7 linked regions of the Homo sapiens genome follow. The protein of the gene in region 2 interacts with the protein of the main gene of each other region in a biochemical or structural test. Each region holds a gene or a part of one and is shown on either strand. Other genes may lie near its edges.

Evidence for each region.
Region 1: of the proteins of GSK3B (region 2) and GFI1, one has a biochemical effect on the other in vitro, tested with the Homo sapiens proteins (one study listed by BioGRID).
Region 3: of the proteins of GSK3B (region 2) and NFE2L3, one has a biochemical effect on the other in vitro, tested with the Homo sapiens proteins (one study listed by BioGRID).
Region 4: the proteins of GSK3B (region 2) and UBR5 form a complex in vitro, tested with the Homo sapiens proteins (one study listed by BioGRID).
Region 5: of the proteins of GSK3B (region 2) and CREB3L3, one has a biochemical effect on the other in vitro, tested with the Homo sapiens proteins (one study listed by BioGRID).
Region 6: of the proteins of GSK3B (region 2) and SPI1, one has a biochemical effect on the other in vitro, tested with the Homo sapiens proteins (one study listed by BioGRID).
Region 7: the proteins of GSK3B (region 2) and ATXN3 form a complex in vitro, tested with the Homo sapiens proteins (one study listed by BioGRID).

What each region holds. Positions count from the first base shown.
Region 1 is NC_000001.11:92,476,629-92,480,869, forward strand, and holds part of GFI1 (zinc finger protein Gfi-1), read right to left. Parts: coding exon 3,973-4,241; intron 3,858-3,972; coding exon 3,720-3,857; intron 2,126-3,719; coding exon 1,960-2,125; intron 1-1,959. UniProt on the Homo sapiens protein: Transcription repressor essential for hematopoiesis. Functions in a cell-context and development-specific manner. Binds to 5'-TAAATCAC[AT]GCA-3' in the promoter region of a large number of genes.
Region 2 is NC_000003.12:120,003,575-120,007,815, reverse strand, and holds part of GSK3B (glycogen synthase kinase-3 beta), read left to right. Parts: intron 1-4,241. UniProt on the Homo sapiens protein: Constitutively active protein kinase that acts as a negative regulator in the hormonal control of glucose homeostasis, Wnt signaling and regulation of transcription factors and microtubules, by phosphorylating and inactivating glycogen synthase (GYS1 or GYS2), EIF2B, CTNNB1/beta-catenin, APC, AXIN1, DPYSL2/CRMP2, JUN, NFATC1/NFATC, MAPT/TAU and MACF1.
Region 3 is NC_000007.14:26,158,365-26,162,605, forward strand, and holds part of NFE2L3 (nuclear factor erythroid 2-related factor 3), read left to right. Parts: intron 1-4,241. UniProt on the Homo sapiens protein: Activates erythroid-specific, globin gene expression.
Region 4 is NC_000008.11:102,402,410-102,406,650, reverse strand, and holds part of UBR5 (E3 ubiquitin-protein ligase UBR5), read left to right. Parts: intron 1-4,241. UniProt on the Homo sapiens protein: E3 ubiquitin-protein ligase involved in different protein quality control pathways in the cytoplasm and nucleus. Mainly acts as a ubiquitin chain elongator that extends pre-ubiquitinated substrates.
Region 5 is NC_000019.10:4,156,104-4,160,344, forward strand, and holds part of CREB3L3 (cyclic AMP-responsive element-binding protein 3-like protein 3), read left to right. Parts: intron 1-891; coding exon 892-1,192; intron 1,193-3,560; coding exon 3,561-3,679; intron 3,680-4,241. UniProt on the Homo sapiens protein: Transcription factor that may act during endoplasmic reticulum stress by activating unfolded protein response target genes. Activated in response to cAMP stimulation. In vitro, binds to the cAMP response element (CRE) and box-B element.
Region 6 is NC_000011.10:47,357,541-47,361,781, forward strand, and holds part of SPI1 (transcription factor PU.1), read right to left. Parts: intron 2,501-4,241; coding exon 2,313-2,500; intron 1,467-2,312; coding exon 1,304-1,466; intron 1-1,303. UniProt on the Homo sapiens protein: Pioneer transcription factor, which controls hematopoietic cell fate by decompacting stem cell heterochromatin and allowing other transcription factors to enter otherwise inaccessible genomic sites.
Region 7 is NC_000014.9:92,075,583-92,079,082, reverse strand, and holds part of ATXN3 (ataxin-3 reference isoform), read left to right. Parts: intron 1-3,500. UniProt on the Homo sapiens protein: Deubiquitinating enzyme involved in protein homeostasis maintenance, transcription, cytoskeleton regulation, myogenesis and degradation of misfolded chaperone substrates.

The sequences.
Region 1 (4,241 bases), on a different chromosome or scaffold from region 2:
AGTTTTCAAATCTGAATTTCCAAGTGGGTGTTAGTTTGTATGGATCAGTGAGCCCGTCTTCTTTCTTGTTCTTGAAGGACAGCAGATTATATCTGAAAAAACATCTTAACATGGACTTTCTTTCTTTCTTTATTTCTCTCTCTCTCTCTCTTTCTTTCTAAGTTCCGGGGTACATGTGCAGGATACGTTTTTCAATATCTTATTTTAAAAATCCACATTTGGGCCACAAAGGATTAAGGCAGCTGATACTTTACTGTCTTGATTTTTCCTTAATTTTATGGGGTTAATCACATGATTCTTTATATACCAGCAATTCTTCACCACAAATTAATAAATAAGAGAACACAAGAAGGTTTTGTCTTGTTCCCCATCTCATGTGTTGTTGGGTAAATGGCATGAATTTCCAATAGCCCAGCATGGCATTATAGTCAGGGCTCAGCCTTGGAAAAAGTATAAAATAGATGAAGTTTGTTTTTGAGGAACCCTCTGTCCTCCTTGCTAAAAACTCTTTTCTGTTTTCATGCTTCAGATTTCCTTGATAAGAAACCACCCATCAAAATGTATTCTATCCCTTTAGGGTCAAACAAATCTGAGAAAACAAATTCTAGGTATAACGTAAATGTTTGATAAGGGCTTAATGTTTTATTCAGTCAAGATCCTAGTTGCATTTTGATAAGTGTCCTGAATACCTTACTTATAAGGAGTGAATTACATGGAAATTTCAGGTAAGAGGGAATGATTAAAGTAGAATACTTTTCTGGGTTTTCAATGGAAATATATACATTACCCAAGTATATTTATAAACATCAAGGGTGGGTGTTTAGAATACACTGTGATTTGTTCTAAATCAGTATTCATATTCTGCAATAAAATTTTCAGAAATTCTGGGTCTCATGTAAATGTCTTTTGACTATTAGAGTGTTCTTGGCATTAAAACTCCCACCCGCACATAAAGTGTTAGACAAACAGTCCAGGATTAAAAGCCAGAGCATTACATGGCTACATTATTCATTCAGTCTTACTTCTGATAAATCATTCACTCTTTCTGAGTTTCAGGATGGTAAGAGCAGCTCCTTCTACTTTCTTGAGTGGCAATAAGAATCAAATGAAATGATAGATTTGAAAGTACTTTGTAAATTATAAAGCATTATAATAGGTAAGGAATTATCATTATTATGGCATTAACTTGCAGATATTTTGAAAAGGGCAATAAGTGAACAGAAGCTTTCTGTCTACCAACCTCATGACTCTGAACATAAAATACAATAAACAGTGGTCAAGAGTGAACATTTGAGAGGTCAGACCTGAATTTGAGCTCTGGCCCTGTCATTTGCTAGCAGTGTGACCCTGGGCAGATTACCTAGCCTCATTTTTTTCATCTCTAAAATGGGGAGAAGGAGTAGTCGCTACCTCTCAGAGTTGTTGTGAGCATAAAATGAAATAATGCATTTAAAAAATGCTTAGCAGAGAGTTTAATCATATTTGCCATTATTTGTTCCTCTTCAATCAGAATAAGCTCTCAGACTCCTGAAAATGCAGCCGGAGAGTCCACACGAGTCCCTCCCACAAAAGGCCAGGTGGTTAGGGAAAGTCCTCAATCTCTAGGTAAGCTTTAGAGCAACTCTCTAAGAGGACCCTGGAGCTTCATATTTCACCCAGAGCAGGCAGCAGGGGAAGCAGCTGCTAACCTAAAGGAAAATGTTCTTTCCAAGTATAGAGTACCTGTGAGCTGACCTGCTGAGTGGCCTTTCAGACACAACCCCAAATCAAGGTGGCTCTGGGGAGAATTATGCCGGTAAATGAACCAAAGAACCCACCCCTTTGTTTTCTTTAACACAGAGCAGAGAATAACTCCATCAGAAAGGCCTCATCCACCACTCACTGGGGCCAGAAATCAGAGAAGATGAGTAATGTTGGCCTCAGGGTGTTTCCTACAAGCCAAGGGCCTTTTTAGCTCACCAGTGTGGATGAAAGTGTGTTTCTTCATGTCTGACTTCTGGTGGAACCTCTTGCCACAGTACTGACAGGGGTAGGGCCGAGTGTCTGAGTGGATAAGCAGGTGTGTGGACAGTGTGGATGACCTCTTGAAGCTCTTCCCACAGATCTTACAGTCAAAGCTCCGTTCCTGCAGAGAGAGAGAGAGAGAGAGAGAGAGAGAGAGAGAGATGCAGAACTCCTACTGCAGTCAACTAGACTGCTGCTCTCCTCACCCCTCAGCTGACCCTAAAATCCCTTGAACACTTTTTCTTTCTTTTTTTGAGACAGTCTCCTCTGTCGCCCAGGCTTGAGTGCAGTGGAACGATCTCAGTTCACTGCACCCTCCACCTCCCAGGTTCAAGCAATTCTCGTGTCTCAGCCTCCCAAGTAGCAGGGACTACAGGCACACGCCATCACACCTGACTAATTTTTGTATTTTTAGTAGAGATGGGGTTTCACCATGTTGGTCAGGCTGGTCTCAAACACCTGGCCTCAAGTGATTCGCCCACCTCGGCCTCTCAAAGTATTGGGATTACAGGCGTGAGCCACCGTGCCTGGCCCTTCAACACTTTTTCTACCAAAACATTCTTCACCCACAACCTTCCACACCCCATGGCAAATACATATCCACACCCTGCTTTTTTTGACACCCATTAGCACACACTTCTCCACCCTCCTCAACAGGAGGCTTAGACCTCAGTCACTTGAGATGCCACCTCCCCCCAGCCAGTGTGGGTGCTGGGGGAGATGGGCTAATACTCTTTTTAGCCTTCGTAAGTAGGCATTCTCCTGAGATAGCTATTGGCATATTTACTTGCTCATCTACTCTCCATCTCTCAGCTAAACTATAATCTTCATGTGGGCATGCTGTCAAGGACCTGATGTGTTATAAGATTCTTAAGTACTTGGCACCTGGAAGTTAGCCAACAAATATTTATTAATGAATGAATGAATAAATAGCGGCGGTGGGGCATGGTGGCTCACGCCTGTAATCCCAGCACTTTGGGAGGCCCAGGCTGGTGGATCACTTGAGGCCAGGAGTTCGTGACCAGCCTGGCTAACGTGGCGAAATCCCGTCTCTACTAAGAACACAAAAATTAGCTGTGCTGTAGTGGCATGCGCCTGTAATCCCAGCTACTTAGGAGGCTGAGGCACGAGAATCACTTTAACCTGACAGGGGGAGGTTGCAGTGAGCTGAGATTGTGCAACTGCCCTCCAGCCTGGGCAACAGAGCCAGACTCTGAAAGAAAAGAAAAGAAAAAAGAAAAGAAAAGAAAGGAAGGAAGGAAAGAATGAATAGCGGGGTGAATATGCTACTAGATGCTCTAAATGAGCTGAGATTCCTGCCTTTTCAGTCGAGAGGGGTCAATGCAAATTAAGTGACAACCATTTGGTGAAAAGAATAGGCACAAAGAAACAGAGCTAGTAAGTCTGATATATCAGCAGCACGAATCAGTGCATACAAACCTACCTCAAGCCCAAAGTAACAATGAGGATCACACTCTCGAGGCTCACAGTGGTGTGACACCAAAATCCAGGGCTGCCTCAAGGCCTGAGCCGGCCACAATCCTCCTTTCCCTACACACCTGCACCAGGGCAAGGGGACGCAGCGGAGGGCTTGGGGGAGGAAACTGGGGGAAGTCGAGGAGAAAACTTCCAGGCAGAGAGTGGCTGGTGCTGCACCGAGGAGATGCAGAAGATCCCCGAGCAGGGCCGCGCGCGGCGGTGCGCCCCGCGCTTACCTGCGAGTGCACGGCTTTGTGCTGCTCCAGGCTCACCGCGTGCCCGAAGGTCTTGCCGCACATCTCGCAGGCAAAGGGTCTGGTACCGCTGTGGGACCTGCGCACGTGCACCTCGAGCCCGTGCGGCGTGGAGAACACCTAAGGCGGGTGGGGCCAGAGAGAAGGCCGCTGAGAGGGGCCGCGGGGCGCAGGCGAGGCGCGGGTAGGGGAAGCGGGCGCACGGCAGGCGAGGTGGTGAGCTCGGGAGCCTCACCTTGCTGCACTTGATGCACTTGTAGGAGCCGCCGCCCAGCAGCAGGCGGGTGCACAGCAGCTCCGACTCCACCTTGACGCCAGCGCCCTTGTCTGCGTGCAGCCCGTGGCCACGCTCGGGGTACAGCAAGCCCGCCGCTGCCGTGGGCCTCTCATACAGCCCGGCTGCCGCAGACCCGAAGTCGCCGTAGAGCCCTAGGCCAGGGCCAGCGGTGGCACCGGCCCCTGCGCTGCAGCTCCCTGGCGCCCCGGCCCCCGCGCCGCCGGCAG
Region 2 (4,241 bases):
AGTATGATATTGGCTGTTGGTTTGTCATAAATAGCTCTTGTTATGTTGAGATACGTTCCATCGATACCAAGTTTATTGAAAGTTTTTAGTATGAAAGGCTGTTGAATTTTGTTGAATGCCTTTTCTGCATCTATTGAGATAATCATGTGGTTTTTGTCATTGGTTCTGTTTATGTGATGGATTACATTTATTGATTTGCATATGTTGAACCAGCCTGTCATCCCAGGGATGAAGCCGACTTGATCGTGGTGGATAAGCTTTTTGATGTGCTGCTGGTTTCGATTTGCCAGTATTTCATTGAGGATTTTCGCATCAGTGTTCATCAGGGATATTGGTCTAAATTTCTTTTTTTTTGTTGTTGTGTCTCTGCCAGATATCATTTGGTATCAGGATGATGCTAGCCTCATAAAATGAGTTAGGGAGGATTCCCCTTTTTTCTATTGATTGGAACAGTTTCAGAAGGAATGATACCAGCTCCTCTTTGTACCTCTGGTAGAATTCGGCTGTGAATTTGTCTGGTCCTGGACTTTTTTTGGTTGGTAGGCTATTAATTATTGCCTAAATTTCAGAACCTGTTATTGATCTATTCAGAGATTCGACTTCCTGGTTTAGTCTTGGGAGGGTGTATGTGTCCAGGAATTTATCCATTTCTTGTAGATTTTCTAGTTTATTTGCGTAGAGGTGTTTATAGTATTCTCTGATAGTAGTTTGTATTTCTGTGGGATCAGTGGTGATCCCCTTTATCATTTTTTATTGCATCTATTTGATTCTTCTCTCGTTTCTTCTTTATTAGTGTTGCTAATGGTCTATTTTGTTGATCTTTCAAAAAATCAGCTCCTGGATTCATTTATTTTTTTTTTTGAAGGTTTTTTTTCTGTCTCTATCTCTTTCACTTCTGCTCTGATCTTAGTTATTTCTTGTCTTCTGCGAGGTTTTGAATTTGTTTGCTCTTGCTTGTCTAGTTCTTTTAATTGTGATGTTAGGATGTTGATTTAGATCTCTCCTGCTTTCTCTTGTGGGCATTTAGTGCTCTAAGTTTCCCTCTAAACACTGCTTTAAATGTGTTCCAGAGATTCTGGTATGTTGTGTCTTTGTTCTCATTAGTTTCAAATAACTTATTTCTTTCTGTCTTAATTTCGTTATTTACCAAGTAGTCATTCAGGAGCAGGTTGTTCAGTTTCCATGCAGTTGTGTGGTTTTGAATGAGATTCTTAATGCTGAGTTCTAATTTGATTGCACTGTGGTCTGAGAGACAGTTTGTTGTGATTTCTGTTCTTTTACATTTGCTGAGGAGTGCTTTACTTCCAATTATGTGGTCAATTTTAGAATAAGTGGGATGTGGTGCTGAGAAGAATGTATATTCTGTTTATTTGGGGTGCAGAGTTCTGTAGGTGTCTATTAGGTCCGCTTGGTCCAAAGCTGAGTTCAAGTCCTGAGTATCCTTGTTAATTTTCTGTCTCCTTGATCTGTCTAATATTGACAGTGGGGTGTTAAAGTCTCCCATTATTATTGTGTGGGAGTCTCAGTCTCTTTGTAGGTCTCCAAGGACTTGCTTTATGAATCTGGGTGCTCTTGTATTGGGTGCATATATTTTAGGATAGTTAGCTCTTCTTGTTGAATTGATCACTTTACCATTATGTAATGGCCCTCTTTGTCTCTTTTGATCTTCGTTGGTTTAAAGTCTATTTTATCAGAGACCAGGATTTTTTTTTGCTTTCCATTTGCTTGGTAGATCTTTCTCCATCCCTTTATTTTGAGCCTATGTGTGTCTTTGCACGTGAGATGGGTCTCCTGAATACAGCACATTGATGGGTCTTGAGTCTTTATCCAGTTTGCCAGCCTGTGTCTTTTAATTGGGGAATTTAGCCCATTTACATTTAAGGTTAATATTGTTATATGTGAATTTGATCCTGTCATTATGATGCTAGCTGGTTATTTTGCCCATTAATTGATGCAATTTCTTCTTAGCATCGATGGTCTTTATAATTTGGCATGTTTTTGCAATGGCTGCTACCGGTTGTTGCTATCCATGTTTAGTGCTTCCTTCAGGAGCTCTTGTAAGGCAGGCCTGGTGGTGACAAAATCTCTCAGCATTTGCTTGTCCGTAAAGGATTTTATTTCTCCTTCACTTATGAAGCTTAGTTTGGCGGGATATGAAATTCTGGGTTGAAAATTCTTTTCTTTAAGAATGTTGAATATTTTCCCCCTACTCTCTTCTGGCTTGTAGAGTTTCTGCCGAGAGATCTGCTGTTAGTCTGATGGCCTTCCCTTTGTGGGTAACCCAACCTTTCTCTGGCTGCCCTTAACATTTTTTCCTTCATTTAAACCTTGGTGAATCTGACAATTATGTGTCTTGGGGTTGCTCTTCTTGAGGAGTATCTTTGTGGTGGTCTCTGTATTTCCTGAATTTGAATGTTGGCCTGCCTTGCTATGTTGGGGAAGTTCTCCTGGTGAATATCCTTAAGAGTGGTTTCTAACTTGATTCCATTCTCCCCATCACTTTCAGGTACACCATTCAAACGTAGATTTGGTCTTTTCACATAATGCCGTATTTCTTGAAGGCTTTGTTCATTTCTTTTCACTCTTTTTTTTCTAATCTTGTCTTCTCGCTTTATTTCATTAATTTGATCTTCAGTCACTGATATCCTTTCTTCTGCTTGATTGAATCAGCTACTGAAGCTTGTGTATGCTTCACCATGTTCTCATACTCTGGTTTTCAGCTTCATCAGGTCATTTAAGCTCTTCTCTACACTGTTTATTCTAGTTAGCCATTCGTCTAACCTTTTGTCAAGGTTTTTAGCTTCCTTGCAATGGGTTAGAACATACTTCTTTAACTTGGAGAAGTTTGTTATTACTGACCTTCTGAAGCCTACTTCTGTCATCTTGTCAAACTCATTCTGCATCCAGTTTTGTTCCCTTGCTGGCGAGTAGTTGTGTTTCTTTGGAGGAGAAGAGGCGTTATGGTTTTTGGAATTTTCAACCTTTCTGCTGTGGTTTCTCCCCATCTTTGTGGTTTTATCTATCTTTGGTCTTTGATGTTGGTGGCCTACGTATGGGGTTTTGGTGTGGATGTCCTTTGTGTTGATGTTGATGCTGTTCCTTTCTGTTTGTTAGTTTTCCTTCTAACAGTCAGGTACCTTAGCTGCAGGTCTATTGGAGTTTGCTAGAGGTCCACTCCAGACCCTGTTTGCCTGGGTATCACCAGAGGAGGCTGCAGAACAGCAGATATTGCTGCCTGATCCTTCCTCTGGATGCTTCGTCCCAGAGGGGCACCCACCTGTATGAGGTGTCTGTTGGCCATTACTGGGAGATATCTCCCAGTCAGGCTACACAGGGGTCAGGGAACCACTTGGATAACAGTCTGTCCCTTATCGGGAGCTGAAACGCCATGCTGGGAGAACCATTGCTGTCTTCAGAGCTGTCAGGCAGGGACGTTTAAGTCTGCAGAAGCTGTCTGCTGCCTTTTGTTCAGATATGCCCTGCCCCCAGAGGTGGAATCTAGAGAGGCAGTAGGCCTTGCTCAGCTGTGGTGGTCTCTGCCGAGTTTGAGCTTCCCTGCTGCTTTGTTTACACTGTGAGCATAGAACTGCCTACTCAAGCCTCAGCAATGGCAAACGCCCCTCCCCCCACCAAGCTCCCACATCTTAGGTTGATCTCAGACTGCTGTGCTGGCAGCGAACAAGGCTGTGTGGGCGTGGGACCCGCCGAGTCAGGCATGGGAGGGGATCTTCTGGTCTGCCTGTTGCGAAGAGCATTGGGAAAGTGCAGTATTTGGGCAGGAGTGTATCGCTCCTCCAGGTACAGCCACTCATGCCTTCCCTTGGGTAGGAAAGGGAAATCCCCCAACCCTTTGCACTTCCCAGGTGAGGCAATGCCCCACCCTGCTTCGGCTCGCCCTCCATGGGCTGCACCTGCTGTCCAACCAGTCCCAGTGAGATGAACCAGGTACCTAAGTTGGAAATGCAGAAATCACCTGTGTTCTGCAAAGATCTTCCTGGGAGTTGTAGACCAGAACTGTTCCTATTCAGCCATCTTGGAAGCGACCATGAATGCCATCTTACAAATGAAAGTGTTAATTGGTCACAGACATTCACTGGCTTTTGTGTATATTAATACTTCTGTGAATTTAAATGGATATAAATATTGGTTATAATATTCCACTAGTGCATTTGGATATTCATTTATCTAGCAATTTATATTTCACAGAGAAAAATACTCATAAATATTATATTACTTTTCTT
Region 3 (4,241 bases), on a different chromosome or scaffold from region 2:
TATGGGGGTTAGGAGTTCAACATGAATTTTGGGGACACAGTTCAATCTATAACAATCACCATCTTCCTTCCATCAATTCTTGGGGTGTTCAGCTTGCTTATGATTAAAAGCTAACTGAGCTGTTTCTGAAAGCAGCTGGTCTATATGGAGGATCATTTGCATAGGACTTGGTGTGTGCTCCTGAGAAAATCTGGGGTTTTGCTGGCTTGATGTGCAACCCTGAGGAAGCTTGGCTCAAACCATCTTTTTCCAGTCAGTATTTCCCCTCCATTAGTAGGTTACAGAGAAATCATCTTTGCCAAGTCTCTTGTATCATTCTCCTTCTTTCCATGACCCCTACTTCTCAACCCACACAGTGGGAAATGAGCATGCAGGGCCCAAGCCCTGACTTGAGGCAGGCTGGTCTAGGGGTCTTGTGTGCTGGCCCTGGAGTCAGACCAGCTGGGGAAGATCCCAGTGCCACACTGGCTGTGTGATCTGGGGCACACTTCTTAAGTGCTCTGAGCCTTGGTTCCCTTATCCGTAAAATGGAATAGTAAGAGCACCTTAGGGAAGTGGTGGTGAGGATTGAATGAGATAGTGCAAGTTGAGCAGGGTTGATACACTATTAATAATTCAGGTGGGGCTTGTACCGCTTCTTCCCCAATTTACTCCCGTCCATTGTGTTGTCAGGTGCAGGTTTCCAAAGCACACCTTGGTTCGTCTCTCTGCGTTTTGTGGGATGCCTCCTCTAGCTCGCCATTGCCTACTTATTCAGTATTTTGTCATTCAGGGCTGCCCTTGTGGCTTATGTGACCCAGCCCCCAGCTGCTCTTGCTGGGCCTCTCCATGTAGCCTTCTTTCCAGGAGAAAACTTTCTTCATCCCTTTGCCCAACAACCCTATGATCTCCTGCCCTTTAGTCTGTTCTTACCTTTGCCCGGAATGCCTTCCTTTCATTCCTCTCAAGTCTTTTATGGTTAAATTCTCAAACTCAGCTCAACCATCACCTCATCCATAAAACATTTCCTGTTCTTCCCTTTGAGCCCTATTGCACTCTGTAACATTTCTTCTATAGGACTTGGCATCCTCTCCTTTGAACTGCAGTGGCTGGAATGTGGAGACTGGGTCTTGGCTTTCACCTGAAATAGCACCCAGGGACAGGGTTAGGAGCAGAGGTCAGTTCAGCCAGTGTCTGTCTGTTGAGCACTTATCATTCATGACATTGTGTTTGCAGAACTTCAAAGATACCATGGGTGTGAAGGTGTCTTGGGTCCTTCAAGGCCCGAGTCTCAACTAGAAAGTAGGTCAGATCTGAAATCCTGATGGGCCATCTGACTATTTAATGCCAACTGTCTGAGTGGATGAGGGCAGTGGAAAGCAGACTTTCAGGCTAGCATTATAATTAATCAAGTGGTGAAACTTGGGATTGCCTAAAGTTATATAGCAAGTTAGTGACCTTGCTAGGAATAGAACAGGTCACTGTTCTTAAGCACTGAGTAAACCATACCTTCTGCTCACTATAAAACTTCAAAGGTAAAAACAAAAGTCTGTCTCGTTCATGGCAGCCTTGTGATAGGAAGAGTTTATTCTTAAAATCTTGTTGCTTTTTTTTTTTTTTTTTTTTGAGAGATAGGGTCTTGCTGTGTCACCCAGGCTGGAGTGCAGTGGTGCAGTCATATCTTACTGCAGCCTCAACCTTCTGGGCACAAGCCATCCTCCTGCCTTAGTCTCCCAAGTGGCTGGGATCACAAGCATGCACCACTGCACCTGGCTAATTTTTTAAAAATTTGTTTGCAGAGACAAGGTCTTGCCATGCTGCTTAGGCTGCTCTCAAACTCCTGGGCTCAAGCTATCCTCCTGCCTCTCCTCCTAAAGTGCTGGGATTACAGGTGTGAGCCACCGCACCCGGCTGGATCTATGTTAATATTCAAATACAATTCCAGGCAGCTGAAGCCTGCCTAGGCTGAGGTACATCCCTGAGTTGTTTTTGGTGGAGTTGCAGGTGGTGGTTGGCAGAATGTGGGCAAGTCACAGAGGCAAGACGTGATCTTTTGAAATTGGGGAGAACTGGGTTCCTGTCTTTATCTGTCAGAGTTCTCCAGAAAAACAGAATGAGTAGAATATGAATAAATAAATACACATATACACACAGATTTATTTCAAGGAATTGGATGATATAATTGGGAAGGCTGGCAAATTCAAACTCTCTAGGGCACCCAGAAACTCTGGAAGCTCCGCAGGAGCTGCAATGCTACAGGCTTCAGGGAGAATTTCTTCTTTATCAAGGAAACCTCAGTTTTGCTCTTAAAGCTCTCCAATTAATTGGATGAGACCCACCCAGATTATTGAAGATAATCTCCTTTACTTAAAGTCAGCTGGTTGATTGTAGATGCTAACCACATGTACAGAATACCTTCAGAGCAACACACAGGTTAGCACTTAATAGAATGACTTAAGAACAATAGCCTAGCTCCTTGACATTTAAAACTGACCATCACGCCATCCAGCTCCACCTCTTCCTGGGAAACCATGATTTCCAAATTGGTAAATGGAGAAAATTAACATCTTTCTTGAAGAGTTCTTGTGAGGATTAAATGACACTGTATGTTTAAGGGCTGGTACAGTTCCTGGCATAGTAATAGATCGTCAACAGATGATTCGCTTTTATTGCTTCTGAGCTCCAGGTCAAACCTCCAGGACACCCCTTGTCTTCTAGAGGAAATTACCAAAGACTGGAATCCACTTTAGCATGAAAGGAACCCTTCCCTCCCCAAGGGGGAGGTCATACTGGAAATGGTTGAATGAATTGGGGCAGTTCCATGTTGAGAAGATCAGACTGAGGAAGGATCATGATCACCAACTTCAAATATTTGAAGAGCTGTTATGTGAAAGAGGCCTTGGACTTGTTGAGGAGGCAGAACTCTAAATGCCAACTGAAGTTCTGCTAAAGCTCAACCGCAGGAAGAACTTAATTTCTTAGCTTCTCTCTCTTTTTTTTTTTTTTTTTTTTTTTTTTTTTGGGTCTTACCTTTCTTTAGAGTTTCTCCAAGGGTCTAAGGGAAATCCAGTGACAAAATGAGAGCCTCCTGGGGCACTAGTTAAAATGCAGATTGCCAGGCCCACCCATCTACCACCAGGCTGAATGAATACCTCTGGAGTTTTCCAGACCCCCAGGTGGTTCTTGTGCCATCCCAAGCTTAAGGTCCTCTGCCTTGACGCTCCTCCCCCAGGGCTCCTCAGTGTCCGGCAATACCTGAATGGAAGGAGTGTCTGGCTGAAAGCCCTTCTATGAATTTAAGGCTCAGAGCAGTTAAAAAACTGGGCCAAAGTGACTTACCAGGTACTTAAAAGTCAAAGCCCAATTTCCCTAGCTCCTTTTATTATTTTCTAATATATTCTAAAGAACATCTCTCTGGATGGGGGTGGAGGTAGGTTGGGGAATGGGGATCTAGCATGCAAAAACAATGAATGCAGAATTAGCTTGCACATAAGTGCAGTTTAAAATTCATGCTTAATGCCAGGCGCAGTGGCTCTTGCCTGTAATCCCAGCACTTTGGGAGGCCAAGACAGGAAGATCACTTGAGGTCAGGAGTTTGAGACCAGCCTGGCCAACATGGCAAAACCCCGTCTCTACTAAAAATACAAAAATTAGCTGGGCATGTTGGCACACACATGTAATCCCAGCTACTTGGGAGGCTGAGGCACGAGAATCGCTTGAACCCGGGAGGTGGAGGTTGCAGTGAGCTGAGATCACGCCACTGCACTCCAGCCTGGGTGACAGAGCTGGACTCCATCTCAAAAAAAAAAAAAAAAATTCATTCTTCAGTTCTAGAACAGGCAAAGCTGAGCTAAAAATATTAGCGAGGAGAACTTTCTGAAAAGTTCTATATCGTGGTTGGGGTGTCAGTTTACATGGGTGCCTCCATTTGTCAAAGTGTGCACCTAAGGTTTCTGCATTTCTGCGTGTATAAATCCTGCCTAAAAACTATTAAAGAAGAATTGAGTGGGGAGGGGTGAAGGTATTGATGATAAGAGTGCTGATCATTGTTGAAACTGGGTAATAGTTACATGGAAAGTGCACTGTATAATCATACAGTGATTCTGTATTCTGTTTACGTATGTTTGAAATTTTCCATAATAAGGAAAAATACAAAAAACATCATGTATTTTGAGGACCAGTTGGCCTATTCTGCCTGCTGGGATAATTTAACACTAAATAAATGAATCATAAATGATACTCTTTACTGCCGCCCCCATGGA
Region 4 (4,241 bases), on a different chromosome or scaffold from region 2:
AAAATCTCACCATTTGATTATTGAGATTGTTACCTAAAAGCAATACTAAATGCATTATGCCAGGTGCGGTGGCTCATGCCTGTAATCCCAGCACTTTGGGAGGCTGAGGTGGGCGGATCATCTGAGGTCAGAAGTTTGAGACCAGCCTGGCCAACATGGTGAAACCCCATCTCTACTAAAAATACAAAAATTAGCTGGGCATGGTGGTGCATGCCTGTAGTTGCAGCTACTCAAGAGGCTGAGGCAGGAGAATTGCTTGAACCTGGGAGGTGGAGGTTGCAGTGAGCCAAGATTGCGCCACTGCACTCCAGCTTGGGTGACAGAGCGAGACTCCATCTCAAAAACAAAAACAAAACCAAAAACAAACAATAAAAAACCAATACTAGATTTATTGTATTGGAAAAGTACAGTCTGGCCTAACTAAAATGTTTAAATGAATTTGCTTAAGTAAGATTAACAGCAGGGTGTAGAATAGCCAAGCAAAATAGAAAATCAAAACAAAGGCAGAGCAATTTTATAAATCAGGATATCTGTGACTGAATCATAGGCCTAGGAATAAACAGACACTTGTGAAGAAAATTACAGGATACACAGGAATACGACTAGGAATAATAGGTGAAATTAGGAAAGGTCAGGGTTTTTTCCCCTAACAATTAGACCATTAGGTTATTTAGGAAATAGTTTCCAAAGGAAAATTTAATTGCTGAAGACTGAGTTACATGGACGTAGATCTTATAAGGTATATTAAAGGAAGCAATTTTATGTTACAGGAGGATGTACTTAATGTCTCCCCTCCCTCATTTTATCATACATATTTATTTTGTTTTTTGAGTCTCGCTCTTGCCCACGCTGGAATGCAGTGGTGCCATTTTGGCACAATCTTGGCTCACTGCAACCTCCGCCTCCCGGGTTCAAGCGATTCTGCTGCCTCAGCCTCCTGAGTAGCTGGGAGTACAGGCGCACGCCACCATACCTGGCTAATTTTTGTATTTTTAGTAGAGATGGGGTTTCACCGTGTTGATCACGCTGGTCTTGAACTCCTGACCTCGTGATCTGCCCACCTAGGCCTCCCAAAGTGTTGGGATTACAGGCGGGAGCCACTGCGCTCGCCCATATTATACATATTTCTAATTAAGAAAACAGACTCTAGTTAGCATCCATGTTTCTGTCATTTTGACTCCTTGGCATTCTGGTCATGTGAAAATAGCCTCTTCTCTTGGCTCACTGTGGTTATGAATTGTTGGTTTATTTTTAGAACTGGTTTTTAAGTTTTCCCCTGAGTATTATTTTTAAGCCTTTTATTTTGGAAAATTTTAAGCATATACAAGAGTAGAGAGAATAGTATGATGAACAACCATGTTCCCATCACACAGTCTTAACAGTTGTCAACTCATGGCCAATCTGATTTCAACTCTCTCCCCATTTATTCTCCTCTATCAGGTAATTTAATTGCTGTATCTTCACTATATATTTCAAAATATGAAGCCTTTAAAAAAAAACCTGAAAAAACCTTAATAACAAAATTGCCCAGATTTTCCTGTTGTCTCATAAATGCTTATTTCTGATTGACAATTTTGATAATTTTACTTAATAAAGCTGATTGGGTTCTAACATGTTAAAAAATTTGACATTTGTAGAATAACCTTAGAATTTGGATTGTAACCTTAGAAGAAGGGGCCACTGGGGAATTATTTAGTTCCTTAAAGCTCAGTGCTGTAACTTTTTTTTTTTTTTTTTTTTTTTGAGATGGAGTTTCGCTCTTGTTGCCCAGGCTCGAGTGCAGTGGCGTGATCTCTGCTCACTGCAACTTCCGCCTCCCGGGTTCAAGTGATTCTCCTGCCTCAGCTTCCCAAGTGGCTGAGATTATAGGTGTGAGCCACCACGCCTGGCTAATTTTGTATTTTTAGTGGAGACGGGGTTTGACCATGTTGGTCAGGCTGGTCTCGAACTCCCGACCTCAGGTGTTCACCTGCCTTAGCCTCCCAGGGTGTTGGGATTACAGGCGTGAGCCACTGTGCCAGGCCTCAGTGCTATAACTTCTTAACCTCCGGTATGACAGCATTTTTTGTCAGCAGTCACTTGTAATTGTTAGATAAGGATGATAAGACAGGATTCTTGAAATTCAGTGATTTTTCCATGGGGTCACTTTGAGAAATAAGATTGTCATGTGAAAAGTTTGCAGCATTTTCATGAACTAATAGACAGGTGAGGTATTAGTCAATTGAACTTGGCTATAAGAAATTATTCTCTGAGATCATATTTCTTATTACTTTCTTGAGACAATCAGTGTAGTGGTAACAAAACCCCTTCCAAATTAGAAATACGATAAATTCTTAGATAACCATGCTTTGTAACATTGTCATTTTGTCAGGATATTAAAGAAGGTATTAATATTTAATGTTATTTTACTTGTAAATACACAATTTATGTTACTTGCACAGCTAAAGTACTGTTATTTGTTCAATTTCTGACAGTATCACTTAATAAAATGTCTTTGACTCTTTCATCTTTATTGAGTTATACTTTACATTCAGTAAAATTAACCCATTTTAGGTGTACAGTTTGATGAATTTCGGCAAATGTGTACAGTTGTGTAATCACCACCACAATCCAGGTACAGGACATTTTCATCACCCCAAAAAGTTACCTGGTTTCCCTTTGTATTTTCAGTCACTTCCCCCTAGGCTAGGTCCTGGCTACCTAGCAACCATTGTTCTGCTTTCTCTCACTGTAATGCTTTTCCTTTTTGAATTTCATAGAAATGGAATCATGTGTCTGTTTTCTTTTGCTTAGAACAGTGCTTTTGCAACAGATCTGTGTTGCAGCATGTAGTAGTTTCTTCTTTTATATTAAAAGTAGTATTTTCATTGCTTGACCTGGGAAGGTGGAGGTTGCAGTGAATCAAGATTGTGTCATTGAATTCCAGCCTGGGCAACAGAGTGAGACTCTGTCTCAAAACAAACAAAAAAAGTAGTACTTATTTCATGACTGTACCACAGTTTTTAAATCTGCTTTCTAGCTGATATAAATTTGGGTAGTTTACTCTTTCTAGCTATTCTCTAGTCTTTATTTTTTTCTTGTTTATTTATTATTTTAATTTTTTTTGAGACAGGCTCTTGCGCTATTGCCCAGGCTGGAGTGTAGTGATGTGAACATGGCTCACTGCAGCCTTGACCTTCTGGGCTCAAGCGATCCTCCTGCCTCAGCCTCCTGAGTATCTGGGACTACAGGCTTGCATTACCACATCTGGCTAATTTTTAATTTTTTGTAGAGATGGAGTCTCTCTGTGTTGCCCAGGCTGGTCTCGAACTCCTGGGCTCAAGCAATTATCCCGTCTCAGCCTCTCCAAGGTGCTGGGATTACAGGCATGAACCACTGTGCCTCGCCTTATTTATTTCTTTAAAATTAGAGACATGGTCTTGCTGTGTTGCCTAGGCTGGTCTCAGACTCCTGGCCTCAAGCTGTCTTCCCACCTTGGCCTCCCAAAATGCTGGGATTACAGGCAGGAGACACCATGGCTGGCCTGAAGTTTTTCTTGGCTTCAATTTATCACAATGTTTTTCATAGGAAAAGTCCACTGATAATAAAAACCTAGATTTTTCTTGACAGCAAATTTTTGTGTTAATTAAAAAACATACTAGTATATGTAAAAAGATTATATTTTAGAATTCCATTAAATGTAATGGTTGTATTCTAGATTGCTAGTTATAAAGATGATGATAGTGGCTAGTCGACAAAGCACTGTGATGAATGGATCAGTAGATAAGTTTTTATTTTCTTCCCCATGAGTTCAGGCTCCATTTCTGTGATATAGAAGTGTCGAGAACCTGCCGTTTCAAGAAATTGGCTCTGCTCCAGCATGAATCTGCTGTTCAGAATTCAGGCGATGAGGTATTCCAGGTCTTTACTTGAATTCAGATACCAGGTCTACCTCACAGACAACCTGGAACTCCAGAGATGGCCTTAACTGTGTCTCCAAGACTCTTACTTAGGGACATGGTGGAAATTCATTTGGGTGTTTTCCGTGACAGCCTCCTTGTTATGAAGTGAGAAGTGGAGGAAGATGGTTTTTTAAGCCTTAAGAAAAGCTAAATTTGAGATTAGGAAGTTAATTTGATGGAGAAAGCTAAGAAAGCCCAGACAATATGGTAGGGTTATTTTAATTTCTAAATGATGAAAACAGAGTTTTATATGGAAGGCTTTGGGGAGAGGGGTATTAGATTGTTCAGCTGATTATCTGT
Region 5 (4,241 bases), on a different chromosome or scaffold from region 2:
TCTCTCTCTCTCTCTCCCCCCCTCTCTCTCTGTCTCTCTCTCTCTCCCCCTCCCTCCCTTCCTCCCTTCCTCCCTTCCTTCCTCTCTCTCTCTCTTTCTTAGACAGAGTTTCGCTGTTGTTTTGCCCAGGCTGGAGTGCAATGGTGTGATCTTGGCATACCGCAACCCCCACCTCCCAGGTTCAAGTGATTCTCCTGCCTCAGCTTCCCGAGTAGCTGAGATTACAGGCATGTGCCACCATGCCTGGCTAATTTTGAATTTTTAGTAGAGACGGGGTTTCTCCCTGTTGGTCAGGCTGGTCTCAAACTCCCGACCTCAGGTGATCTGCCCGCCTTGGCCTCCCAAAGTGCTGGGATTACAGGCCTGAGCCACCGTGCCTGGCTCTTTTGTTTTTCTTTTTTTCTTTTTTTTTTTTTTTTGAGATGGAGTCTTGCTCTGTTGCCTAGGGTGGAGTGCGGTGGCGTGATCTCGGCTCACTGCAGCCTCCGTCTTACGGGTTCAGAATCTCCTTCCTCAGACTCCCGAGTAGCTGGGACTACAGATGCCCGCCACCACGCCCAGCTACTTTTTGTATTTTTAGAAGAAATGGGGTTTCATCATGTTGGCCAGGCGGATCTCGAACTCCTGACCTCAAGTGATTCGCCCTCCTCGGCCTCCCAAAGTGCTGGGATTACAGGCAGGAGCCACTGCACCTGGCACTGGCTGGGATTTTTATGCTATGTTACTGCGTTTGAGCCTCAGCAGCCCCGGGAGGAAGAAGCAGTAACTCATCTTGGAGAAGGGAAGGACACCTAAGGCCCAAAGAGGGTCACTGGTTTCCCTGGGGCCACACACTAATCTAAAAAGAGTGAGCACTTCCTAATTCCTACTACCCCTCCCTGTCCACCCCAGCAGGTCCTGCCAAACCCCGACTCTGACGACTTCCTCAGCTCCATCCTGGGCTCTGGAGACTCACTGCCCAGCTCCCCACTCTGGTCCCCCGAAGGCAGTGATAGTGGCATCTCCGAAGACCTCCCCTCCGACCCCCAGGACACCCCTCCACGCAGCGGACCAGCCACCTCCCCCGCCGGCTGCCATCCTGCCCAGCCTGGCAAGGGGCCCTGCCTCTCCTATCATCCTGGCAACTCTTGCTCCACCACAACCCCAGGGCCAGTGATCCAAGTACCTGAAGCCTCTGTGACCATAGACCTGGGTGAGTCCTGCTGTGTCTCTGCCCACCGCCCTCACCTTGTTCCAGGGCCCTTCCTGTAAGTGAGGAAATGGAGGCCCAGAGAGGGCTGGCATCTTGTCCAAGGTCACACAGCAATTTGGAGCTGGGCCCAGACTCAAACTCAGGACACGTGTCTCCCTTGGCTAGGTGTTTCCATGCTTTCACGTGGATGCTATTGGGAGCCCATTTTCCAGATCGTGAAACAGTCCTGTCAGGTTGAGCAATGAGCTAAAACCACAGAGCTAGGATGCAACCCCGGCAGGTGGCTCAGGCACCAGGCATGGTGCTGACAAGCACAGCCCAAAGTCAGGGTCTTGCCTTCTACGTGTCTGTACCCCGTGCCTGGTTCCTAGTAGATTTTTTTTTATTTTTTATTTATTTTTATTTTTTGAGACAGAGTTTCACTCTGTCACCCAGGCTGGAGTAAAGTGGCGCGATCTCGGCTCACTGCAACCTCTGCCTTCCAGGTTCAAGCAATTCACCTGCCTCAGCCTCCTGAGTAGCTGGGATCACAAGCATATGCCACCATGCCCAGCTAATATTTATTTTTTAGTAGAGACGAGGTTTCACCATGTTGGCCAGGCTGGTCTTGAACTCCTGAGCTCAGGTGATCTGCCCACCTCAGCCTCCCAAAGTGCTGAGATTACAGGTGTGAGCCGCTCCACCCAGCCTGTAGATGCTCAATAAAAGTGCATGAGGTTACCAGGTCCTAGGTTCCAGGGTGCTCCTCCTAGACGTGGGGAACAGCAGATCAGTAATGATTTACTCTATTGATTAAGCATTCCCGGCGGGCCAGGCAGAGCCCTGGCTGGAGATACTTGGCCTCTGGGTGGCCTTTGTCCCTTGACCCTTGCTATGAGCTCTTCTTGGTCCCATTGGAGAGTTGACAAAACTGAGGCTCAGGCCCGGAGCGGTGACTCATGCCTGTAATCCCAGCACTTTGGGAGGCTGAGGCAGGCGGATCACTTGAGGTTAGGACTTCAAGACCAGCCTGGCCAACATGGTGAAACCCCATCTCTACTAAAAATACAAAATTAGCCGGGCATGGTGGGGGCCACCTGTAGTCCCAGCTACTCAGGAGCCTGAGGCAGGAGAATCACCTGAACCCGGGAGGCGGAGGTTGCAGTGAGCTGAGATCATGCCACTGCACTCCATCCTGGCTGACAGAGCCAGACTCTGTCTCGAAAAAAAGCCAAAAACAAAAAATGCTGGGCACAGTGGTTCACGCCTGTAATCCCAGCACTTTGGGAGGCCGAAGCGAGCGGATCACGAGGTCAAGAGATCGAGACCATCCTGGCCAACATGGTGAAACCTCTGTCTCTACTAAAAATACAAAAATTAGCTGGGTGTGGTGGCAGGCGCCTGTAGTCTCAGCTACTCGGGAGGCTAAGGCAGGAGAATCTCTTGAACCTGGGAGGTGGAGGTTGCGGTGAGCCAAGATTGCCACACTGCTCTCCAGCCTGGCGACAGAGCGAGACTCCGTCTCAAAAAAAAAAAAAAAAAAAAATCTGAGGCTCAGAGAGGTGAAGTCACTTACTCAAGGTCACACAGCCCTGCCCAACCAGGATTAGAACCAAGGGTTACCTGACCCAAAGTTTGTGTGCTGGGACAGCATGCCTACTGCATGCCGGCTACCAGGAGGGGACAACCAGAGGTGAATCAGACCTCGTCCCTGCCCCTTGGGTGAGATAACGCCTGGCTGGCTGCAAATCTAGCCTGTAATTCTGTGTGATAACAGCCACTCCCTTTTGAATCAGCCGGTGTCTCCTGACAATGTCCTGTGTCTTCCTCAGCCTTGTGGGACGGACAGAACCAAGCCCTGTTGAATTTGGGTCCCCATCTTTTTTTTTTTTTTGAGATGGAGTCTCGCTGTGTCACCCAGGCTGGAGGGCAGTGCCACATTCTCAGCTCACTGTAACGTCCACCACCCGGGTTCAAGTGATTCTCCTGCCTCAGCCTCCCGAGCAGCTGGGATTACAGGTGCACGCCACCAGGCCCGGCTAATTTTTGTATTTTTAATAGAGATGGGATTTCACCATGTTGGCCAGGCTGGTCTTGAACTCCTAACCTCAGATGATCCGCCTGCCTTGGCCTCCCAAAGTGCTGGGAATACAGGCGTGAGCCACCATGACTGGCTGGGTTCCCATCTTATAGCAGAGGGGAGACCGAGTCACTAGTGAGGGCTGCCCCCTTCAACTCAGGCCTTGGGGACTCCAAACTCTGGCAGAAGTCATATGAATGTTGGGATTAATCATGGGAGACTTGGTGGAGGAGGCGGTTAGAGGCTGGAAGCTCAGGACTCCCCCCGTCTGACACTCTCCCTGTCTCCGTCCCCACCTGCCCTGGTCAGAAATGTGGAGCCCAGGAGGAAGGATCTGTGCTGAGAAGCCGGCTGATCCGGTGGACCTGTCCCCACGATGCAATCTCACCGTGAAAGACCTCCTCCTTTCGGGCAGCAGTGGGGACCTGGTGAGCACCCCCACACCCTCCCATGGGGCGTTGGAGCTGGGAGGGCTGCTCGGGTTCGAGGAGCCTAAATATCCCCGTTTCAGAGACTGGAAAACTGAGTCACAGAAAGGCGTGGAATTTGCCCACAGTTAGAGACCATTCCAGTCCTGGGCTCACTGTCGCCTGGGCTGGGGTGTCTTCCTCTGTAGTACTTAGTAGTAACAATAGCAACAACAACTAAAAGCTAAAACTGGCTGAGTGTGGTGGTTCACACCTGTAATCCCAGCACTTTGGGAGGCCAAGGCAGGCAGATCGCTTGAGCTCAGGAGTTTGAGACCAGCCTGGGCAACATGGTGAAACCCCATCTATACAAAAAATACAAAAATTAGCCTGGCATGGTGGCACATGCCTGTGGTCCCAGCTACTCGGGAGGCTGAGGTGGAAGGATCGCTTGAGCCCAGGAGGTCAAGGCTGCAGTGAGCTGTGATTGTACCACTGCACTCCAGCCTGGCCAACAGACCAGGACTGTCTCAACAATAACAACAACAAAAAGAACAAAGCTAAAACTGAGGCTGCACCTGCT
Region 6 (4,241 bases), on a different chromosome or scaffold from region 2:
CACCTGCTCTCACACTCACACATCACACCCATTCTCTTGTTTTTGAGATGGAGTTGCTCTTGTTGCCCAGGCTGGAGTGCAATGGCACGATCTCGGCTCACTGCAACCTCCACCTCCCGGGTTCAAGCAATTCTCCTGTCTCAGCCTTCCAAGTAGCTGGGATTACAGGCGTTCACCACCACGCCTGACTAATTTTTGTATTTTTAGTGGAGACGGGGTTTCGCCATGTTGGCCAGGCTGGTCTCGAACACCTGACCTCAGGTGATCCGCCTGCCTCAGCCTCCCAAAGTGCTGGGATACAGGCGTGAGCCACCACGCCCGGCCCACTCACACCCATTCATGCTCACACACTCATTCACACACCTGCTTTCACACATACACATACCTGTTCACACACATGCACACCTGCTCACACACGCAGGTGCTTAAGCACGTCCTCACCCCCCACACACACCTGCTCACACATGGGAACACACACATGCTTACACATGTTAAAACACATATCCACTCACATACATGCACAGACCTGCTCACATATACACATACATGCTCACACACCCCAGCTCACACCTTCCTGCTCACACACACCTGCTTACATACACCCTCAAACATGTTCACACCCACTCACACATCCACTGACACACACCTATGCCCATTCACACACACTTATATCACACACATCCCTGCTTACATACACATTCACACATATACACTTGCTCACACACCTGCTGTCACACCCCCACTCACACATATCACTCACACATGCCTGCTTACAGCCACTCACATATACCATGCTCACATCCCTGCTCACACAGGCACACCCACACACTGCTGACACCCACTGACATCATACGTGCACAGCTGCTCACACGCACTGAAATACATTCATGTGTTGACAGACACACAAACATGGCCACACCCACTCTCAGCCACACCAGCTCTCACATTCACCTTCTCACACACCCACTCACACAGCCACTCGCACACATGCACCTGCCCGTACCTGTGCACACGCACCCTCTGCACACTTGCTCACACACACCCAGATGTACACACACTCATGGCACAGAGAGACACACACACCTGGCACACTTCATGGAGATGCCCGTATGCACTACACAGCAGATACACACACACAGAGACAGCCACAGACAGCCCCACAAAACACACACACTGGCAAACATGCACACACACACACACGCGACTCGGTGGCGTGGCTGCTGGGTCAGTTGGCCTGGCTGGGTGGGGGCAGGGCACAGACACGGCCAGGGTCGGGGCCAGGGTGGAGGGCCAGGTGCCCCACCTGTCTCCCCAGGCAGGAGCCCAGGCCCGGGCTCCAGGCCATCCGCCTCGCCGTCAGACACCTCCAGTGGGGGGCTCTGCCGCTCGCCCTCCTCCTCATCTGAGCTGGGCTGGGCTGGGGACAGGGATGGGTACTGGAGGCACATCCGGGGCAGGTAGGAGACCTGGACGGTGGGGGAAGGAGATCAGAGTCAGGAAGGGCCAGCTTACAGCTCAGGGGGGCTGGGAGGGAGGTCAGCTGGGGAGAGAAGGAGTGCAGAGGGCAGGGGACAATGGCAGGCACAGGAGACTGGAGGAAGAAGACCAGGGAAAAGGGGGGCCAGTTGAGGTGCTGCACATAGGGTGCAGGCTGTGGGGCGAGGGGTGCTGACATCCAGCCCACCCAGCCCTCCCAGCTGGGCCTCCTGGTTTAGGACTGTGGGCACCGGGGAAGTGGTGCCTTGTTCTCCTCCCTGCAGCGGTGCTGTGTGGACCCGCATTAGGCTGGGGTCAGAAGAGGGCATGCTAGGGACCGGTGCGTTGGGTCTGGAAGGGGGTTTCATAGGTGGGATGATGAGTGAGTGGAGGGACCCTGGAGGTCAGTAGGGGTGGTAGAGGTCAGCAGAGGTCACTGATCCGGGTTAGGGTCAGTAGGGAGGGTCACTGGGGAGAGGCAGGGTCAGTAGAGGTGTTCAGTGACTTGGTGTGGGATCCATGAGGGCTAGTGAATGGGGGTGGCAGACAGTGAGGCCCAGGAGGGCCCACAACAAGGCGTTGGGATGGGGAGGCTTGGTGAGGGTGCGAGAATTATCTGGGGTCTGTCCATACTCGGGGTGAGATGAGATAAGGGGTGTGGGGTCATGAGGTCACTTGGGGGGTCAGGCGGCAGCCGTTGGAGCTCCAGCCGCCGTTGGCACTGTGGGGCAGGAAGCTGAGTTGGGTAAGAGCCTGTGTCAGCTTCCTGTGAAGCTCCCGGGCCCCACCACAGGCCTGGCAGTCTCCTGGGGGACGGGGCAGGCGGTGGCATGCACCTGGTGGCCAAGACTGGGATGGGGTGGCACCATGGGGGTATCGAGGACGTGCATCTGCTCCAGCTCCATGTGGCGGTAGAGCTGCTGCAGCTGCGGGGGCTGCACGCTCTGGAGCTCCGTGAAGTTGTTCTCGGCGAAGCTCTCGAACTCGCTGTGCACGTGGTGGGGGTGGAAGTCCCAGTAATGGTCTGTGGGGGACAGCCAGGCAGTATGGGGTGAGCTCAGGGTTGGGCAGGGCAGGAAAAGGTTATAGTAACATTAAATAATACTGCCAGGCCATATGGGGCCTAACCATCTCGTTTAACCCTCGCCACCTGCATGGTTACTCTAGGCCTGCATTTTATAGATGAGGACACTGAGGCTTCGAGCGGCTACATAGCATGCCCAAGGTCAAAAGCATCCGGGTCACAGCCAGGACTCAGGGCTGAAGCAAAGCTCGTGTTCTCAGCAATTCCATCCTGATTCCTGTGCAGTCACACAGACCGAGCGTCTAATCCTGGCTCTGCCATTTACTTGCTGTGTGACCTCAGGCACATATGTGGCCTCTCTAACCTCAGTTGAGTTGCCTGTAAAATGGGGATCACAGTTATTGGGAAGATACGAATGAGTACACATTTGTAAAACACCTCGCACCAGAGCCGGCCCTCAGGGAAAGTTGATTCCCCTCCTATCCTGTTAAAACCTCCCAGCCAGGGCCGCGCGCGGTGGCTCACGCCTGTAAACCCAGCATTTTGGGAGGCGGAGGCGGGCGGATCATGAGGTCAGGAGATTGAGACCATCCTGGCCAACGTGGTGAAATCCCATCTCTACTAAAATACAAAATATTAGCTGGGCGTGGTGGTAGGTGCCGTAATCCCAGCTACTCAGGAGGCTGAGGCAGGAGAATCGCTTGAACCCGAGAGGTGGAGGTAGCAGTGAGCCGAGATTGCGCCACTGCACTCCAGCCTGGCGACAGAGTGAGACTCTGCCTCAAAAAAAAAAAAACTCGGCCGGGCGCAGTGGCTCACGCCTGTAATCCCAGCACTTTGGGAGGCCGAGGTGGGTGGATAACGAGGTCAGGAGATCAAGACCATCCTGGCTAACACAGTGAAACCCCGTCTCTAGTAAAATACAAAAAAATTAGCTGGGCGTGGTGGCGGGTGCCTGTAGTCCCAGCTACTCAGGAGGCTGAGGCAGGAGAATGGTGTGAACCCAGGAGGCGGAGGCTGCAGTGAGCCGAGATTGCGCCACTGCACTCCAGCCTGGGCGACGGAGCGAGACTCCGTCTCAAAAAGAAAAAAAAAGAAAAAAGAAAAGAAAAAAACCTCCCACGGGTTCCTGAGCTCCCTGGCTGCCCACAGTCTCTCTCTCTGTCTCACACACACACACTCACACAGCCTTGTCACATGGCCAAGGTGTGACAGCAGAGTCACAGGGCTGACATTCCTCACACACTAGAACTTGTCCAGGCACACGGTGGCCCTTCCTCTTCAAAGCCATGACCTTAAGCAGTGGCACCTGTGTTCCCGTGAGGTTCCTGGGACCTGAGACTTTCCTGGAAAACCCCCTGTGGGTTCCTTGAGTCTGTGGTGGAGGAGACTGAAGTCCGGGGAATAACCCCATGCCACCAAAAGCCCTGTCTTGGAACTGGGGAAGATCTTCAGCATGAACACCTTTTCCAGGAACAAAAACTGCCACACATCTGCGGGACTTCCTGGGCGCAATTCGGGGTCCAAAATGAAGCGTGGTAATAAAGTGACAAGATCGGCTGTCTCATGTGGGCCAAAGAGGGCGCCTACGAGACTCCAGGTCCAGGCAGTGTCTCTGGGACAAGTCCACCACCAGCCATGCGTGCGTGTGTACGTGTGTACAAAGGTGTACACATGTCTGCCTGCATCTCTCTTTCTCTCTCACACAAACACCTAATCACACATCCCTAATAGATAATCA
Region 7 (3,500 bases), on a different chromosome or scaffold from region 2:
TCCCAAGTAGCTGGGATTACAGGTACACACCACCATGCCTGGCTAATTCTTGTATTTTTAGTAGACACGGGATTTCACCATGTCGTCCAGGCTGGCCTTAAACTCCTGACCTCAAGTGATCCACCTGCCTCGGCCTCCCAGAGTGCTGGGATTACAGGCATGAGCCACTGAGCCCGGCCCAATCTCGTTTTATAATACTCCCATCTCCCATTCTTTCCACTGTCCCACCTGCAAGTTTGGATTATTTTGTAACAAATCTCAATCATCATATTATTCTATAACCATTTTAATATGTGTCTCTAAAATATATTAGCTTTATTTTTAACATAGTTAAATGCTATTGTCATAAAATAATAATCATAATAATTAATTGTAATTCTATATCATCAATTATCTAGTTAATGTAAAAAATAAATCTAAGGCCAGGCGCGGTGGCTCACACCTGTAATCCCAGCACTTTGGGAGGCTGAGGTGGGCAGATCACCTGAGATCAGGAGTTCAAGACCAGCCTGACCAACATGGAGAAACCCCATCTCTACTAAAAATACAAAAAATTAGCCAGGCGTGGTGGCGCATGCTTGTAATCCCAGCTACTTGAGAGGCTGAGGCAGGAGAATCACTTGAACCCGGGAGGCGAGGTTGCGGTGAGCCGAGATCGTGCCATTGCACTCTAGCCTGGGCAAAAAGAGTGAAACTCCATCTCAAATAAATAAATAAATAAATAATAAAAAATAACTTAAATCTACTTAATTAGAAAAACTAACATTCTAAAAATTTTATTTTAAGAAATATCAAAATTGGCTGGGCACGGTGGCTCACGCCTCTAATCCCTGCACTTTGGAAGGCTGAGGTGGGCGGATCACCTGAGGTCAGGAGGGTCAGGAGTACAAGACCAGCCTGGCCAACATGGCGAAACCCTGTCTCCACTAAAAATACAAAAATTAGCCAGGCATGATGATGGGCACCTGTAATCCCAGCTACTCAGGAGGCTGAGACAGAAGAATCGCTTGAACCCAGGAGGTAGAGGTTGCAGTGAGCTGAGATCACCCCACTGCACTCCAGCCTGGGTGACAGAGTGAAACTCCGCCTCAAAAAAAAAAAAAAGAGAAAAGAAATATAGAAATTAAAGCATACATGGCCAGGCGTAGTGGCTCATGTCTGTAATCCCAGCACTTTGGGAGGCTGAGGCAGGCAGATCACTTGAGGCCATGAGTTCAAGACCAACCTGGCCAACATGGCGAAAGCCTGTCTCTACTAAAAATACAAAAAAATTAGTTGGGCATGGTGGTGCACACCTGTAATCACAGCTACTTTGGAGGCTGAGGCAGGAGAATCGTTTGAACCCAGAGGTGGAGGTTGCAGTGAGCCGAGATTGTGCCACTGCACTCTATCCTGGGTGACAGAGCGAGATACTGTCTCAAAAAGAAAAAAAAAAGGCTGGGCGCGGTAGTTCATGCCTGCAATCCCAGCACTTTGGGAGGCCGAGGCAGGCAGATTACGAAGTCAGGAGATGGAGACCATCCTGGCTAATACAGTGAAACCCCGTCTCTACTAAAAAATACACAAAAATTAGCTGGGTGTGGTGGCAGGCACCTGTAGTCCCAGCTACTCTGGAGGCTGAGGCAGGAGAATGGCATGAACCCGGGAGGTGGAGCTTGCAGTGAGCAGAGATCACACCACTGCACTCCAGTCTGGGCGACAGAGCGAGGCTCTGTCTCAAAAAAAAAAAAGAAAGCATACTCTCACCTCCTTCAGTGACTGATGTTAGTATTTTGGCACATTCTTTTTCTGTGACATATACACACTTACCTTGTAAGTGTTGTACTCATTTCCTATGACAGTAAATAGTCTTTGTAACAGGCTGCATGATATTTCATAAAATGAATGGATGTGGCATAATTTATATGTGAGCCTTTTGAATTCTGCTATTATAATTAATATTGCAATGAACAATTCTTATATTGCCTCTACACCTCAAATGTCTTATCATTTCTTCTAGTTTTTCTGAGGATGTCAGATTATTGGGTTAAAGGATATGAACATTTTTAAGGCCTTGGAACAGATTTCTAAATTGCTTTCCAGAATAATTCCCATGTGATACTTTCACCATGTTTATTTCAGACTTTTTTTTTTTTTTTTTTTTGAGACGAAATCTCACTCTGTCACCCAGGCTGGAGTGTAGTGGCATGATCTCGGCTCACTGCAACCTCCGCCTCCTGAGTTTAAGCGATTATTCTGCCTCAGCCTCCCAAGTAGCTGCGGTTACAGGCAAGTGCCTCCATGCCTGGCTAATTTTTGTGTCTTTTGTAGACATGGGGTTTCACCATGTTGCCCAGGCTGGTTTCGAACTCCTGAGCTCAGGCAATCTGCCTACCTCGGCCTCCCAAAGTTCTGGGATTACAGGCGTGCACCACCGCGCCCAGCCATCAGAGTCTTTTTTGTCAAAATAAAATGGTCTAAAGACATACATCATAGAGAAACTATAATACAAAATTTACAGGTATATCTAAGAAAAGAAAAGTATATTTAAAGCATAAAAATAAACTGCTCTTTTACTTAAAATTTTTTAAAAACTGGATTAAAAATATGAAACTTCCAACAAATTGAGCTTTTTTTTTTTTTTTTTTCTTTTTTGAGACGAGGTCTCGCTTTTGTCACCCAGTCTGGAGTGCAGTGGCGCGATCTCGGCTCACTGCAACCTCCACCTCCCTGGTTCAAGCAATTCCCCTGCCTCAGCCTCCCAAGTAGCTGGGATTACAGGCGCATGCCACCACGTCGGGCTAATTTTTTTGTATTTTTAGTAGAGAGGGGGTTTCACCATGTTGGCCAGACTGGTCTCGAACTCCTGATCTCAGGCAATCTGCCAGCCTGGGTCTCCCAACATGCTGGGATTACAGGCATGAGCCACTGCACTCGGCCTGAACTTTTTATAGTAGTAACGATAATTCAGTAATGTCCAATAATGACTAAGTAAGTTATAACAAGTACAATGTCAGCAATAACTAGTGCTTTTTAGTAAACAGGGTCAGGCAACCTTGTACCCTTTTAAAAATGTTCGAATATCGATATACCTCCTTCCTACTTGGTGGAGGATTGATTGAGGAGGAAAGTGTGCAGTGATGGTTACCAGCTTCAGCCTCTTGGCTTGACTTTGCAAATACTGGTGAGAATTTGGAAAGAGCTTGAGAATATCTTACATAGTCACATGTTGCTGAGAAGAGTTAAGAACTAACTTCTTGATGTTCATTTTTAACAATGGCTTGCATTCAAAACCTTGTAGAGCTCATTAGTAGGAGCTAAGAAGCTAATATTTGCCTTTCACTAAAATTCCTGATTACTTAGCCTAGGTAGTTCGTTGTCTCTCTAGGTTCTGTCTTTGGGAGCTTGGGTCTAAGGTTATCAAGCTAACTCTTTCTTCCCTCTCACCCTTCCCAAATTGACCCTGGTGCTGATTTGTTATTCATACGATTTTCTAGTTTTTCTTTTCCCTTTTTGAGTAT